Homo sapiens: one gene and its partner. The protein of the gene in region 1 interacts with the protein of each later gene in a pairwise test. Each region holds a gene or a part of one and is shown in the gene's direction. Other genes may lie near its edges.

Region 1 (7,367 bases):
CCTCTCAGTGGCCCATCTGTGTGGCAGTTTCTCATCCCTCTCCTCGGGACCTGCCTGGAGGTGGACGAAGGTGTTTCTGTCACCCTGCACACATCAGAGGCCACACACTGGTCTCAGCTGTGTTTGGTTGGCCTTTTAAGCATCTTCCAAAACTCTGCGTTCATTCATTGCCCACTTCTTCAACTCAGATCATTCACATAGAAATCCAGATTCCCACTTTCTCTGGAAGAATTCTGGAGGCAGGTGGCCCTGGGCCCCCACCCCTGGCCACTCTGGGTGGTCCAAGCCCTGTGCCCGCCCACTTGAGTGTGACACCTGGATGGGCCCTGGATCTCGAGGGACAGGCCGAGTGGTGTGGGTGGTGGCACTGGCAGGGTCTTGGCACCAGTGAGCCCTGGGTTTCAAAGCCAGCTGTGTGACACTGAGAAGTTTGTGCGACCTCTCTGAGCCCCGTTTACACATCTGTGAAATGGGACATTAATATGGCCAGGGCTGCACAGGGTCAGCGTGAGGCGGATATGAGAAAAAGCATGTCAAATACCCGGTACACAGTAAGTGCCAAATGCTCATCATCCCTGTGCCCACAAGGGTGTTGCCTTGTGGTCCTCAGGATGGCAGCATGTGGCCCTCGGGTGAGGCTGGTGTCCGCTGCTAGCTGGTGTGGGGAAGAAGGTAGGTCTGATGCTCCTCTGGGAACCGGCAGCTCTAGGACCAGCACTTGGGTCCCTTTGAGCGATTTGGGCCTGCGGCCAGCAGAGGGCGCGGCTGCCCCAGAGATGGCAGGTTCACCAGCACGTCCCCAAACCTGGCCACTGCTTCCATTTCCCCAAGTCCATCCCAGCTCCTGGGGCAGGCCACAGCGCTGGCCCATTCCCTGTGGCAGATTCACTCCAGGCAGGTGCTTCCCGTCTGTGATCCTACTGTGTCCCTCAACCACCCTAGGAGGTAGGGACTCATTGCTTCCATTTTACAGATGAGGAAACTGAGACCCAGAGAGGCCCGGGAATGGGATAGGAAGCAACGTGCCAGGGCTGGATGACGAGTCCACCAGGCCACACTGGGACTCGAGGACTGTGGCCCACAGAAGGGTCTGGCAGGGCTGGTTCCTGGGTTGGGCAGGAATGGCCTCTCGGGAAGACAGATAATGAGTTTCGGGGACTGTTACTGCCCCAGTGAGATGGGAGAGTAGAGTGAGGCTCGGAGGGACAGTGGCTGCCTGGGGCAACCAGGCCCGAGGAGGGGAGGGCACATTCTGCATGACTGGGGAGGGGTGGGGCAAACAGCCTGTTTGGAGCAGAGGCTGTGTGAGAGCAAGAAGGGAGTCCCGTCAGATATGTCTCATGGGGACCCCGGACCAGACCCTGAGGGCCACAGGAGGCCACCCTAGCTGGGAGGTGAAGTGGCTGTGTGGACACCCAGGCCTCACCCGAATGGACTCTTCCTTCCCCTCTCCCCCACTCCAGGTCCGCTGCCAGCCCCAAGCCCCCCACCAGCCATGAGCTCCTCCAGAAAGGACCACCTCGGCGCCAGCAGCTCAGAGCCCCTCCCGGTCATCATTGTGGGTGAGTGTCAGGCCCCAGCCAGGGAGGGGCTCCGCTGAGCCTTCCGGGTACCCCCCAGGTCTGAGGGCAGGAGCTGGGCAAGTCCAGGCCTGGTGTCTTTTTTCGTTTTTGGGGTTTATTTTTTATTTATTTATTTATTTATTTATTTATTTATTTGAGACAAAGTCTCACTCTGTCGCCCAGGCTGGAGTGCAGTAGTGCAATCTTGGTTCACTGCAACCTCTCCCTCCCGGGCTCAAGCGATTCTCCTGCTTCAGCCTACCAAGTAGCTGGGATTACAGGTGCATGCCACCATGCCCAGCTAACTTTTGTATTTTTAGTAGAGATGGGGTTTCGCCATGTCGGCCAGGCTGGTCTCGAACTCCTGACCTCAAGTGATCTGCCTGCCTCAGCCTCCCAAAGTGCTGGGATTATAGGTGTGAACCACCATGCCTGGCCCAGGCCTGGCCTCTTTACAGTGGTCTTTAAATTAAGCCATTGAGCGTTTACTATGTGGCCAGTGCTAGGCTTAGCAGTTTATAAGCTATCATTCCCTTTCACACTTCCGAGAACCCAGGGGTCTAGAACACACCCATCAGCTGGAGGCGACCCGGCGTGGCGCAGGGAGGCCTGGTCCTGAGCCCACACTGATCCCATGACTACCCTGTGCCCAGCACTGTGCTAGGTGCCCACATGAGAGGACACACAGTAGCGGCTTATGATTCCTGTCCTCTGTCTGCACAAATGGGGACAGATGACCCCCCAGTATGCAGGCGTCCGATTAAGCCACGTGAGATGGTCATTTCTGTAAGGCAAAAGCAGATGGGTGCCTGTGATTTCATATGGTTCTTCCTGGTATCCTGCATATGAGTAATATTCCGAATCAGACGAGATAAGAAGAGGGGAAAGGACAGATAAAAAGAGAAGCGCTATCACAGGGCTGTGCCTGGTGAATCGCCCAGGAAGCGCCACAGATGGCAGCGCAGTTCTTCAGACGTGCAAGCAGCAGACCCAACAGGCGGCTCAGCACCCCTGAGCGCCCACAAGCACCCACCACTCAAGTTCGCCCCCAGGCCACGTAGCAATCTGTGCTACATTCACTCATCCATCTGACCTAGTTCTTAGCAATCTCAGAATCTCAGTCGCGTCGTCAGATATTCCCTCTGTCTGGGTTTTAATCCCGGCTCGTCTACCTTCCGGCCGTGTGACCACAGGCAAGTAACTTAACCTCTCTGTGCCCATTTCCTCAAGTATAAAAGGAGGAAAAGAGTGGCACTTACCTCGCTAAAGCTGTTGTGAGGCTGTTGTGAAAGCTCTCAGTACAATTCCTGGCACAGAGTAAGCTCTCAGCAGTTGTTCATTCCTTCTTTTTAAAAGTATTATTAGGCACAGTGTCTGGCACAGGCTAAGGGCTTAATAAATATTTATTTTTATGAATGAAGGATAAATGAATGAATGCGCCGCATCTAGATCAAAGCCCTCCACAGTAGTGTCCCCCACCTGAAAAGGCCACCCCCTTTAACCTCCACCCTCTCTCCCCAGGTAACGGCCCCTCTGGTATCTGCCTGTCCTACCTGCTCTCCGGCTACACACCCTACACGAAGCCAGATGCCATCCACCCACACCCCCTGCTGCAGAGGAAGCTCACCGAGGCCCCGGGGGTCTCCATCCTGGACCAGGTGGGTCAGCCTGGGGCCAGAGCTCTGGGTAGTACATACCCGCCCTTGGAAAACTACCGCCGCTTTCCCAGGGAAAAACAAAAGTGTGTGTTTGCTGGAAACAAGACTAAACAAAGAATTCGAGAGTCCACAAAGTCAGCCACGGAGATCGTGAAAGAGAAATCAGAGACCCACAAATGCCACACGATCTAGGGCTCACTATGCCCTAGGCCGGTTGTTCTCAAGGAGGGGATGATTTTTCTCCTCGGGGGGCACCTGGCAATGTCTGGAGACAATTTGGGTTGTCATGGCAGGGTGACGGTACTACCAAATCTAGCAGGGTGGAGGCCAGGGATGCTGGCAAACATCCAGCACTGCACAGGACAACGAGGGTGGTGAGACTGAAATATGTGTGGTGGAGCTTCTCAACCTTGGCCCCACTGACATTTGGATGACTTTGTTCTGGCTACAAAGAATGATCTGGCTCAAATGTCAGTGCGGCCAAGGTTGAGAAACTCCACCACAGATATTTCAGTCCCACTACCTCCTGCCCACAAGGGTTTGCAAATCCTCCCTCCGTACCCCTTGTCTTCCACTGTGCTCCTCCACGACCTCCCCTTGTCGACCTCCCTCGTCAGGCAGTGTACATCCTCCTGTTCCCTTCCCGCCCCTGAGTTGGAGATGAGGAAATAGGTCTTGACCATTTGATCTAGATCAGCATTTTTCAAAGTGCTCTCTATAGAATACTAGTTCCTCAGTATAATATAGAGAGAAAAATGTCCCCACTCCAGTAAAACAGGGACACACTGGGTTTGGCAAAATTAAACAGGTAAATGATGGCTGCAGGACTTGTCAGAGCCTTTAATATGCCCGTCTGTGTTATCTGCTGTTAAGAGGCAGCACCTCCCAAGCTGATCTGACCACACTGATATTAGGGTAGGGATGTAGGACCAGGCAATCGCTCCAGTCTCACCCAAGCTTGCGCATTTGGTCTGTACTCTGGGGCCCTTGGCCTCCTAGAAAGACCTCAAAACGAGAGCTTCAAACTACCCCCAGGGTGCGCATCTCTCTGAGACCCTCCAGTGCCAGGGAAATGGCCCGGCCCCAGTCCCCACGTTCCTGCCCAGCCTCAGGCTCTGGGAAGACGACCCCGCCCTCCTCCAGCAGCCCCTCTGACCTATGCCCCCCTCCAGGACCTGGACTACCTGTCCGAAGGCCTCGAAGGCCGATCCCAAAGCCCCGTGGCCCTGCTCTTTGATGCCCTTCTACGCCCAGACACAGACTTTGGGGGAAACATGAAGTCGGTCCTCACCTGGAAGCACCGGAAGGAGCACGCCATCCCCCACGTGGTTCTGGGCCGGAACCTCCCCGGGGGAGCCTGGCACGTGAGTGGGGCAGCGAGGGCATGGCTTGTGGGGGGCTCTCTCCCTCGTTCTCCCCACTTGGGGCTGGGACTCTGGCATCTCCCTTTCCTCATTCTCCACCCCGCAACCCTGCCTCTCCCTCCTCCCTCTACCCAGCCCCAGCAAAGGCCTCCCATGCCCTCTAGCCCCAAATGGGTTCAGGCGAGCAGAGGCCTGGACCAAAGGGTTCCTTTCCCTGCAGTCCATCGAAGGCTCCATGGTGATCCTGAGCCAAGGCCAGTGGATGGGGCTCCCGGACCTGGAGGTCAAGGACTGGATGCAGAAGAAGCGAAGGTGAGGCCGCCCCGGAACGCCTTGGGGGACACGGAAGGTTGGGCCTGTGAACCCAGAAAATCTGAGACAGGTCTCAGTTAATTTAGAAAGTTTATTTTTCCAAGGTTGAGGACGCGCCCGTGACAGCCTCAGGAAGTCCTAATGACATGTGCCCAAGGTGATCCGGCACAGCTTGGTTTTATACATTTTAGGGAGACATGAGACATCAATCAATATTTGTAAGAAGTACATTGGTTCGGTCTGGAAAGCTGGGCCAGCTTGAAGCAAAGGCAGGAAGTGGGGAGGGGGCTTCCAGGTCGCAGGTAGGTGAGAGATAAACAGTTGCATTCTTTTGAGGTTCTGATGAGCCTCTCCAAATGAGGCGATCAGATACGCATCTATCTCAGGGAGCAGAGGGGTGACTTGGAATGGAATGGGAGGCAGGGTGGCCCTCAGCAGTTCTCAGCTTGACTTTTCCCTTTAGCTTAGTGATTTGGGGGATTTCACAGGCCCCCCACAGTGAGCCCGTGAGCCAGAGGTACAGGGGCTTCAGAGTGCATCTGGTCTGTCTTCCTCTTCTTCCAGAGGGGGAAACTGAGGCTCAGATAGGGAAAGGACTTGTCCACCCCACATGAGTGGGGGTGAGCAGCAGAGCTGGGCTCACCCGAGGACCCCCTGTCCCGTGCAAGCAGCAGACCGCCCTGTCACATGGCCCCCAACTGGGCCTCCCCATAGTGCCCCAGCCTCTAAGGAGGGGGTAACACCTGGCCCCTGAGCCCCACGCCCTGCCCCGTGCCTCTGGCACAGGTCCCCCAGTCCTTGTGGTCTCCCTTCAGCCCTTTCCTCTATTCTGAGCCTGGCCTAGAACAATCTTTCTGGGTCAGCTAATAGGGTGACTTTCTTTTTTCTTTTCTTTTTTTTTTTTTTAATGCTTTTGCTACAGGTGAGTTTCATCCTTAACCATGAGCCCCCAAGTTGGGTAAATTAACTCACCTAAGGTCATGCAGGTTATTGGAAATGCAGAAGGAAAACAGCTCACCCCAAACCCACACTTCTCCACGCCCTTTCACTCCTGGGGTATTTTTTCCCCATCTGGCTTCCTGCCCCATCATGGCCACCCTAGAGAAAAGGTTTGTGAACCCTGAATATTTGAGATGGGTCTCAGTTAATTTAGGAAGTTTTGTTTGTTTATTTGTTGTTTGTTTTTAATGAAGTCTCCCTCTGTCGCCCAGGCTGGAGTGCAGTGGCGCGATCTCAGCTCACTGCAAGCTCCGCCTCCCAGGTTCAAGCCATTCTCCTGCCCCAGCCTCCCGAGTAGCTGGGACTACAGGTGCCCACCACCACACCCGGCTAATTATTTTTTGTATTTTTAGTAGAGACGGGGTTTCACCGTGTTAGCCAGGATGGTCTCGATCTCCTGATCTCGTGATCCGCCCACCTCGGCCTCCCAAAGTGCTGGGATTACAGGCGTGAGCCACCACGCCAGGCTAATTTAGGAAGTTTAATTGCCAAGGTTGAAGACGCACAACCATGACACAGCCTCAGGAGGTCCTGATAACATGTACACATGGTGGTCGGGGCACAGCCTGGCTGTATACGTTAGGGAGACTTGAGACATCAATCACTATATGTAAGATGGACATTGGTTCCGTCCAGAGGCGGGACAACTCCAGCAGGGAGGGGTGTTTCCAGGTCTCAGACAGGTGAGAGACAAACGGTTGCATTCTTTCGAGTTTCTTATAAGCCTTTCCAAAGGAGGCAATCAGGTGTGCATTTATCTCAGTGGGCAGAGGGAAGACTTTGAGTAGGACGGGAGGCAGCTTTGCCCTAGGCAGTTCCCTGCTTGACTTTTCCTTTAACTTAGTGATTTGGGGGCCCCAAGATTGATTTGCCTCTCACAGTTTCAATCACTGAATAAAGGAGTTCTAGTCCCTGCTCCTCCTGGGGTGCATCCACTCAATGAGAAGCTGCCCCAGCGCAGATACCTGGGTGCAGTCTGCCTCTCGGGAAGCCCTGCTTCCTCCGCCCCCAGGGCTGTGACCAGGCCTGTGTCCCCAACGGCAGGCACTCCAGGCGTCCCCCTCCAGGCCTCACTATCTCTTTGATGCGAAGACTCTTCTGCATGTTTGGCAGGAAGACTTCCAGGTTTGTGTAGCTACATGTTAGTAGGCAGCCAGAAACTTACATTTCGCTTGTAAGCACAGCCTTTTATAGGCTCATTTTGCATTTTCACATTGTATCCCAAGCGTTTCATGTGGTGAAGTCACAGCGTTCAAAACCATCCTTTTACATGGCCTCACAATATTCCCAAAGGCGAGTGAGCATCCCCAGTCCAGCAAATCTTCACCGAATGCTTATTATGTGCCAGGCCTTGGGCTTAGACGTCAGAGCACAAAACCACCGCAGACACACCCCCTGCCTCATGGCACTGCCAAGGTTACCCAGCCCCTGCCAGCCCTGGAGCATTCATTCTTTCCATTGTGTCATTATTA
Region 2 (7,134 bases), on another chromosome or scaffold:
TCTCTAAGGAAATGTCAGGTAGACAGAGCAGGGCCAGGGATCTCAGGGGACCCCAGTTGGGCTCTGTGCAGCCCAAAGGGCGGGGGCTGGGGAGGTCGTGCAGGCCAGGGAGGCTGAGAGGACGTGGGGCCAGTACGGGTGGACGGCCGCTTGGGAGCCGTGAGCTCCTGGTCGGGGGTGGAGGGTGGCCAGAGGGGACAGCGGCACTGGGTCCTCCAATGGGCTTTGGGGGTCCGGCATCCTGGAAAGGACCCAGAACCTTCTCCCCCTCCATCCTGGCAGGTCAGATGCAGGGCATCCCGGACTCCCACAGGGAGGGGTTTCTTGTCCGGGTCATCTGGTCGCCTTGCTGGAGAGGCCTCTGCCTGAGCTGAGAGGAGGCTGGAGCTCACTCCCCGGGCTTCATCTTGTGGCTGCCTCAGCCTCCCTGCCCCTAAAACCACTACGAACCCACTTGAGAGGTGTCCTCGGGAGGATGCCCGCAGAAAGGCCTGCCCGGGTCCCTGCTGGCATAGGCCCTTCCAGCACCTTCCACTAACTAAGCCTCTGTTTCCCTAAGAGCACAGGCGTCCTCCAGCTCTGTCACCTGACTGTCAGAAGTCATGTCTGCTGTTTGTCTTGGGATGGAGCTGCCGGGGACACGGCCCCTCCCACCACAAGTGGCCAAGGGCATGTTGTGGTCGGGAAGCTTCACCGGTCGGCCCCGGCCACCTCACCTCTGCCTGCCACTCGGGGTCCTGGGCCCTGCTGCCCCCCGAGTGCAGCTGCAACGCCCCTTTTGCCTAAAGCAGCAGGCCCTGCCGACAGGGACCTGAGCATCTTTTTCTTCCTTCCTTGGCCTCTGAGGTCCTGAGAGGGAACTCCCCAACTCTCCCGCCCCAGTCAGCGGTCACAGGGGAGTCTCTGGGCCCACAACAGGGCCGGCCTGGTGGCTGAGACCCTGGTGGCTCCTGGCCACGCTCAGGAAGGCCCGTGTGGTCAGGGCTGCATTTGAACCGGCCCCGCACTGGGGATCTGCCGAGGGCTGGGTGCTGATGTCCCCACCGCGCCCCCCGTCGATGTCTCTTGCCAGGCGCGACTCTTCGATGAACCGCAGCTGGCCAGCCTGTGCCTGGAGAACATCGACAAAAACACTGCAGACGCCATCACCGCGGAGGGCTTCACCGACATTGACCTGGGTAAGGGCCCAGGAGCCCAGGTGTGGGAATCCCAGCGGGGCCTCGGCGGGAGGGTCCGGGGATTGACAGTGGGAGCTTTGGGCCTGGGGGAGTTGCACAGGTGAGCTGGGGCCTCACCACTTGCAGCAGGTCAGGAGTTTGGGTCCTAGCACAGCCCCACGGGAGTCCGGGGCCTTGGCCAGGAGGCCACAGGCCAGAGCCCACCATCCCAGCTGATGGTGACCATCTCGTCCTCCGATGGTCCATGGCTTTGACTTTGCTGTTGAACAGCTTTTGTCAAAGCTACTCAAGTCTGTCCTTGTGGCTTAAAAACAACCACAGCCGAGGAAAATGAAGGGGCGTGGTCTTGTGTTGATAAAGCTTTATTTATAAACACACTCACAGGGCCAGATTTGGGCCACGGGCCATAGTTGCCAGCCCGGCTTTAACTGCTGGTCCTCACGTTAGTCTCACTGCCTCCTGCAGGGTGGGCATGTGGGTGTCGTGTTCACGCAGCCCCTTCCTCCACCCCACAGACACGCTGGTGGCTGTCCTGGAGCGCGACACACTGGGCATCCGTGAGGTGCGGCTGTTCAATGCCGTTGTCCGCTGGTCCGAGGCCGAGTGTCAGCGGCAGCAGCTGCAGGTGACGCCAGAGAACAGGCGGAAGGTTCTGGGCAAGGCCCTGGGCCTCATTCGCTTCCCGCTCATGACCATCGAGGAGTTCGCTGCAGGTAACAGAGCTCGGGCTCAGGGGCTGGTTTGGGAGGGGAGTGGCACACAGGTGGGCATCTGGGTACCGAGGATAGTGCCCCCGAGTTCACTGCGGAAAGCCTGGCAGATGCCTGGCATATACAGATAGGAAGAAACCTGGCTTGTGAGGACGCGTCCACAGGGCCATCTGTTAGCCCCGGCCCGGCTCTGTCCCCACCGTGCACACTGCCAGACCCCGCCTCTCGTGTCTGTCCAGCTGTTTTGGTGGCATCTTCCCAGGAGGGAAGGGAGTCCCCGTCTCGCGCCCTTGTGCTACCTGCTGGTGCAGGTACCAGTGTCTGTGACGAGCTCAGGAGGGCTCTGACATGGCCGGGGTGGCTGTCATGCGCCCGAGTGGGCCTTGGGGTCCCCTGCTGCAGGGCCTGGGTTCCAGGGTGACGTGAAGGGGCAGCGCTAACGATGCCTCCTGCCCTCGTGGCTGCTCACTGCCTGACGCCATCCAGCTCTGGAGCAAAACAGGCCTGGAACTTTCCAGAAGGGGCTGGGACAGAGCCCTGGGGCTGGTGCACACTCGCCGTCTGGCCTTCCCCAGGTCCACGCGGCCCCCGCTCTTGCTTAGCTGAAGGTCGCCAGATTTAGCAAGAGGGTCTCTGTCGCCCAGGCTGAGTGCGGTGGTACAATCACAGCTCACTGCAGCCTCGACCTCCTGGGCTCAAGTGATCCTCCTGCTTCAGACTCCGGAGTAGCTGGGATCACAGGTGCCACCACCACACAAGGCTTATATTTGTATTTTTTTGTGGGGACAGGGTCTTGCTATGTCACCTGGGCTGGTCATGAACTGGGCTCCAGCCATCCTCCCATCTCGGCCTCACAAAGTGCTGGGATTATGGACATGGGCCACCGAGCCTGGCTAGATACATACTTCTTAAAAATACAACTGTTGATCAGCTGGGTGTGGTGGCTCATGCCTGTAATCCCAGCTACCCGGGAGGCTGAGGCAGGAGAATCACTTGAACCCAGGAGGTGGAGGTTGTGATGAGCCGAGATCGCGCCACTGCACTCCAGCCTGGGCAACAAGAGTGAAACTCCATTTAAAATAAAAAAATATATACAATTGTTGGCCAGGCTGGGTCACTCACTCCTGTAATCCCAGCACTTTGGGAGGCCCAAGATGGGGGGAATCACTTGAGGTCAGGAGTTTGAGACCAGCCTGACCAACAGGGTGAAACCCCGTCTCTACTAAAAATACAAGATTAGCTGGGCATGGTGGCGCATGCCTGTAAACCCAGCTATGCTGGAGGCTGAGGCAGGAGAATTGCTTGAACCCTGGAGACGGATGTTGCGGTGAGCCGAGATTACGCCACTGCACTCTAGCCTGGGGGACAAGAGCGAAACTCCGTCCTGCACTCTAGCCTGGGGGACAAGAGCGAAACTCCGTCTCAAAAAAAAAAAAAATTGTTAACATTGTTTATTGAGTTTTGATACTCAGTCTTCCTGATTCACTTAACCCATAATGGTCTGTTTCTCACCAGTTATTAAACTGTGTCTGCACTGGGCTGGCTTGCAGCTGAGCGATGCGGAGTTGAGCCCACCTTGGTTGATGAGTGATTAGGTCTCAGGCAGGCAGGGCTGCTCTCATTAGAGCAGAGGGTGCTGTGTCCTGGCACTCCTGGGGGTGGATGGTGGACCCCCAATTCTGCCCCTCCTGGCCTCCCCTCCCTACCCAGAGCCCCTTCACATCCCATGCACAGTCCCTCTGCCTGTGACATCTCTGCACCGGGATTAAGAGCCTGGCTCTTGGAGTCTGCCTGGGGTCCGCTAGCCATCACCCCTGGGGGTGTAAGCGCTTGAGAAGGTGTCTGCCTAGGGCCCACCGTGGAGAGGAACCCCCAGACTGCTTCTAGAAGCCAGGGCTGCAGCCTGGGGGGTACAGGCCTAGCAGGGAGCCACAGTGACCCCTCCCAGCCAATGGCCCTGAGAGAACAGGCAGTGGAGCCCCCCGCCCCCACCCACAGTGAAGTGACGGGTGGTCCCTACAGTGGGGCCAGACCCTGAGACATCACCCCTGAGTGAGTGCATCTGTCAGACCCTGAGGCATCGCCCCTGAGTGAGCGTATCTGTCGGCCTCTGGTCTGTGCCCTGGGACCTCTCCCTAAAAGCCCAGGCAGCAGGGGCCATGGCTGGTGGCTAGTCCCCCGGGGAGGGGCTGCCCAGGTCCCTGCACCTTGAAAGTCCGACGCAGACATCTTAGGGGGAAGGAGCGTGTCCTCCCAGGCACTCGGGATCCTGGGGTGCAGCCCGGCCCTCCCCCACACCCTCCCTGTGCTGCAGGTCCCGCACAGTCGGGCATCCTGGTGGACCGCGAGGTGGTCAGCCTCTTCCTGCACTTCACCGTCAACCCCAAGCCACGAGTGGAGTTCATTGACCGGCCCCGCTGCTGCCTGCGTGGGAAGGAGTGCAGCATCAACCGCTTCCAGCAGGTGGAGAGTCGCTGGGGCTACAGCGGGACCAGTGACCGCATCAGGTGGGGCTTGGGGTGCAGGCGGGGGGGTCCGGACATGGGGGTGGAGGACTCGGGGATGACGGAGATGGGGGGCCGGGCATGGGGGTGGAGAACTCAGGGATGATGAAGACGGCGGGGGGGCCGCCGGGCATGGGGGTGGAGGACTCAGGGACGATGGAGGGGACCGGGCATGGGGGTGGGCTCGCCCCAGCTCACCTTAGGCTATCCCTGGGTATCCACGCTGCTGCCTGTCATCTGCCACGGCAGGTTCTCAGTCAACAAGCGCATCTTCGTGGTGGGATTTGGGCTGTATGGATCCATCCACGGGCCCACCGACTACCAAGTGAACATCCAGGTACCAGCCCCAAGCCTCATCCCCAGGCCCCACTCAGGCCCATGTCCTCTCTCCACCTCCATGGAACCCTGGCTGAACCCCCGGCCCTGGTCCCTGTGCTGCCCCCACCCTGGGCAGGTGGGCTGGGCCTCGAGGGGTCCCCGTTGGCCCTCCCCAGGCCTGAGCCTCCCACTTCCCACCTCCCCGCAGATTATTCACACCGATAGCAACACCGTCTTGGGCCAGAACGACACGGGCTTCAGCTGCGACGGCTCAGCCAGCACCTTCCGCGTCATGTTCAAGGAGCCGGTGGAGGTGCTGCCCAACGTCAACTACACGGCCTGTGCCACGCTCAAGGTGCGCCGCCGGGGACAGGGGTCCCTCCGTGGGAGTCTCTGGCCCATCCTGAAGCCACCGGGGCACAGCACACACTCTCCAGAGGCAGCCACCCTGGCCCAGTCGGGGCCTTGCCCTGTCCACACCTGGGGCATCCCAGCCTGGTGGTCCTTGACCTCACTGTACCCCTATTCCCTACAGGGCCCAGACTCCCACTACGGCACCAAAGGCCTGCGCAAGGTGACACACGAGTCGCCCACCACGGGCGCCAAGACCTGCTTCACCTTTTGCTACGCGGCCGGGAACAACAATGGCACATCCGTGGAGGACGGCCAGATCCCCGAGGTCATCTTCTACACCTAGGCTGCCCGACACCGACACCGCCCTCCCTCCGTGGGGATAGCCGCAGCCCCAGGCCATCATCTGCTGCTGGGGCCCCCCCACCACGCGGTGCCAGGCCCAGTGTCCCCCAGGCCGTCTGTCCACTCCATGCCACCTTTCTCAGCATCAGGACGGGGTTGCCCTGTGTTCACCACGAGTGTGGCTGCTGGATCAGGGCAGCCGGGGAGGTGGCCAGGCCAGTGGCCAGGCCCTGTGGAGACAATCCCTCAGGACTAGGGACAGGGCTGTGCCGGCCTGGGCCAGGGCCCACGGACCCGCAGCTCAGGGCGCCTGCCCACGTCGTCTGCCGGCGGTGCGCCGCGGGCGTCCCTCGCGTCTCTTCACTGCACATTGCAATGCATTTGCGATTCCCATTTCTCTGCTAGGAGCCAGCCTGGGTGGCGCTGCTCCCAGAGCCGTGGGTCCCAGACCTTGCGTTCCTTTTGTTCCTGTCCGTTTATCAGGACACGGGCCCCACCTGTCACGTGCCCGAGGCCACCCAAGCCCAGCCTGCGGGGCGTTCCCACTGCCTGGATGCCGGCTTGAGTTCTGCGCACGCAGGATTCAGTGTGGGGACGGCCCCTGCCGGATAGGCCTAGCCCTGGCCCAGGTGGTGAGCGGTTTGCAGTGTCCGTTCTCATCCACCTGATGGGCCCAGATAAAGGCCCCCGCTGTCCAGCCTCCCTGGACGGCCCTCGCGGTCCCTGCAGCCCAAGATGGGACTCAGACCCTGTGCCCCAGAGCTCCCCTGCCGCAGAATGGGGCCCCAGCCGGCCCCGACCGGGTCCAGGAGCACTGCTCGCCTGTACATACTGTTGCCCTAGCCCACCTGGTGCCGTGGGAGCCACCCCCAGGTGCTGGGGGCACAGCCCCTCCCCACTCCGGCCACGCCCCCACCCACCCCGCGTGTTTCTGCCCTGTGACTCCTGGAACCTGCGTCCTCCCCAAAGCCATGGGAGGGGTGTCCTCCTCAGACCATGCCCCCAGATGATTTTTTTAAATAAAGAAACAAATGCACCTGCCTTGAGCGCACACTGCTTTGCTCCCCTTCACTCTCTGCCCTGTCATCCGGGCTGCAGTGGGCGAGGGATGTCGTGCGCCGAGAGGGGCCCTGAACCCCGGGTCTGGTCGCCAGTGCTGCGAGACCCTCCTTAAGTACCCACAGGCCACACTGAAGCCCGGGAGGTCGAGACTGCAGTGAGCAGTGATGCACCACTGCCCTCCCCCCTGGGCAAGAGCAAGACCCTAACTAACTCAACACCTCCCCCCAAACCCAAATGCAATGGACGTGTGTGCCGATTTCCCCGTGGGGAGGCCCTGCTGGCTGCTGGGGGACCGTGGATGTGAGAGATGGAGAGAAAGCAGGGAGTGCCCAGTTGTGGCCTCAGTGGCCAGAGAAGTCAAGCCGTTGGCTGCTGCCTCAGGAGCACACGTGCAGGGCAAGACATCAAGAAACCCGGCAGCAAGGCCGCGTGGTGGCTCACACGTCATTACAGCACCTTGGGAGGCCGGGCGGGTGGATCACCTGAGGTCAGGAGTTCAGGACCAACCTGGCCGACATGGTGAAACCCCATCTCTACTAAAAACACAAAAATTAGCCAGGTATGGTGGCAGGCACCTGTAATCCCAGCTACTTGGGAGGCTGAGGCAGGCGAATCGCTTGAACCTGGGAGATGGAGGTTGCAGTGAGCCAAGATGGTGCCATTGCA

What was found.
Region 2: the proteins of OSGIN1 (region 1) and BTBD2 interact in binary tests that used the Homo sapiens proteins (3 or more experiments, as listed by UniProt).

What each region holds. Positions count from the first base shown.
Region 1 is NC_000016.10:83,956,177-83,963,543, forward strand, and holds part of OSGIN1 (oxidative stress-induced growth inhibitor 1), read left to right. Parts: intron 1-1,463; 5' UTR 1,464-1,495; coding exon 1,496-1,562; intron 1,563-3,083; coding exon 3,084-3,220; intron 3,221-4,392; coding exon 4,393-4,584; intron 4,585-4,804; coding exon 4,805-4,896; intron 4,897-7,367. UniProt on the Homo sapiens protein: Monooxygenase catalytic activity. Involved in regulation of cytokinesis; promotes RHOA activity, probably acting locally at the midbody in late cytokinesis.
Region 2 is NC_000019.10:1,984,761-1,991,894, reverse strand, and holds the end of BTBD2 (BTB/POZ domain-containing protein 2), read left to right. Parts: coding exon of another isoform or gene 1-18; intron 19-1,072; coding exon 1,073-1,178; intron 1,179-1,524; exon of another isoform or gene 1,525-1,693; coding exon 1,694-1,891; exon of another isoform or gene 1,892-2,937; intron 2,938-3,400; exon of another isoform or gene 3,401-4,202; coding exon 4,203-4,395; intron 4,396-4,641; coding exon 4,642-4,729; intron 4,730-4,918; coding exon 4,919-5,065; intron 5,066-5,245; coding exon 5,246-5,407; 3' UTR 5,408-6,447; downstream 6,448-7,134.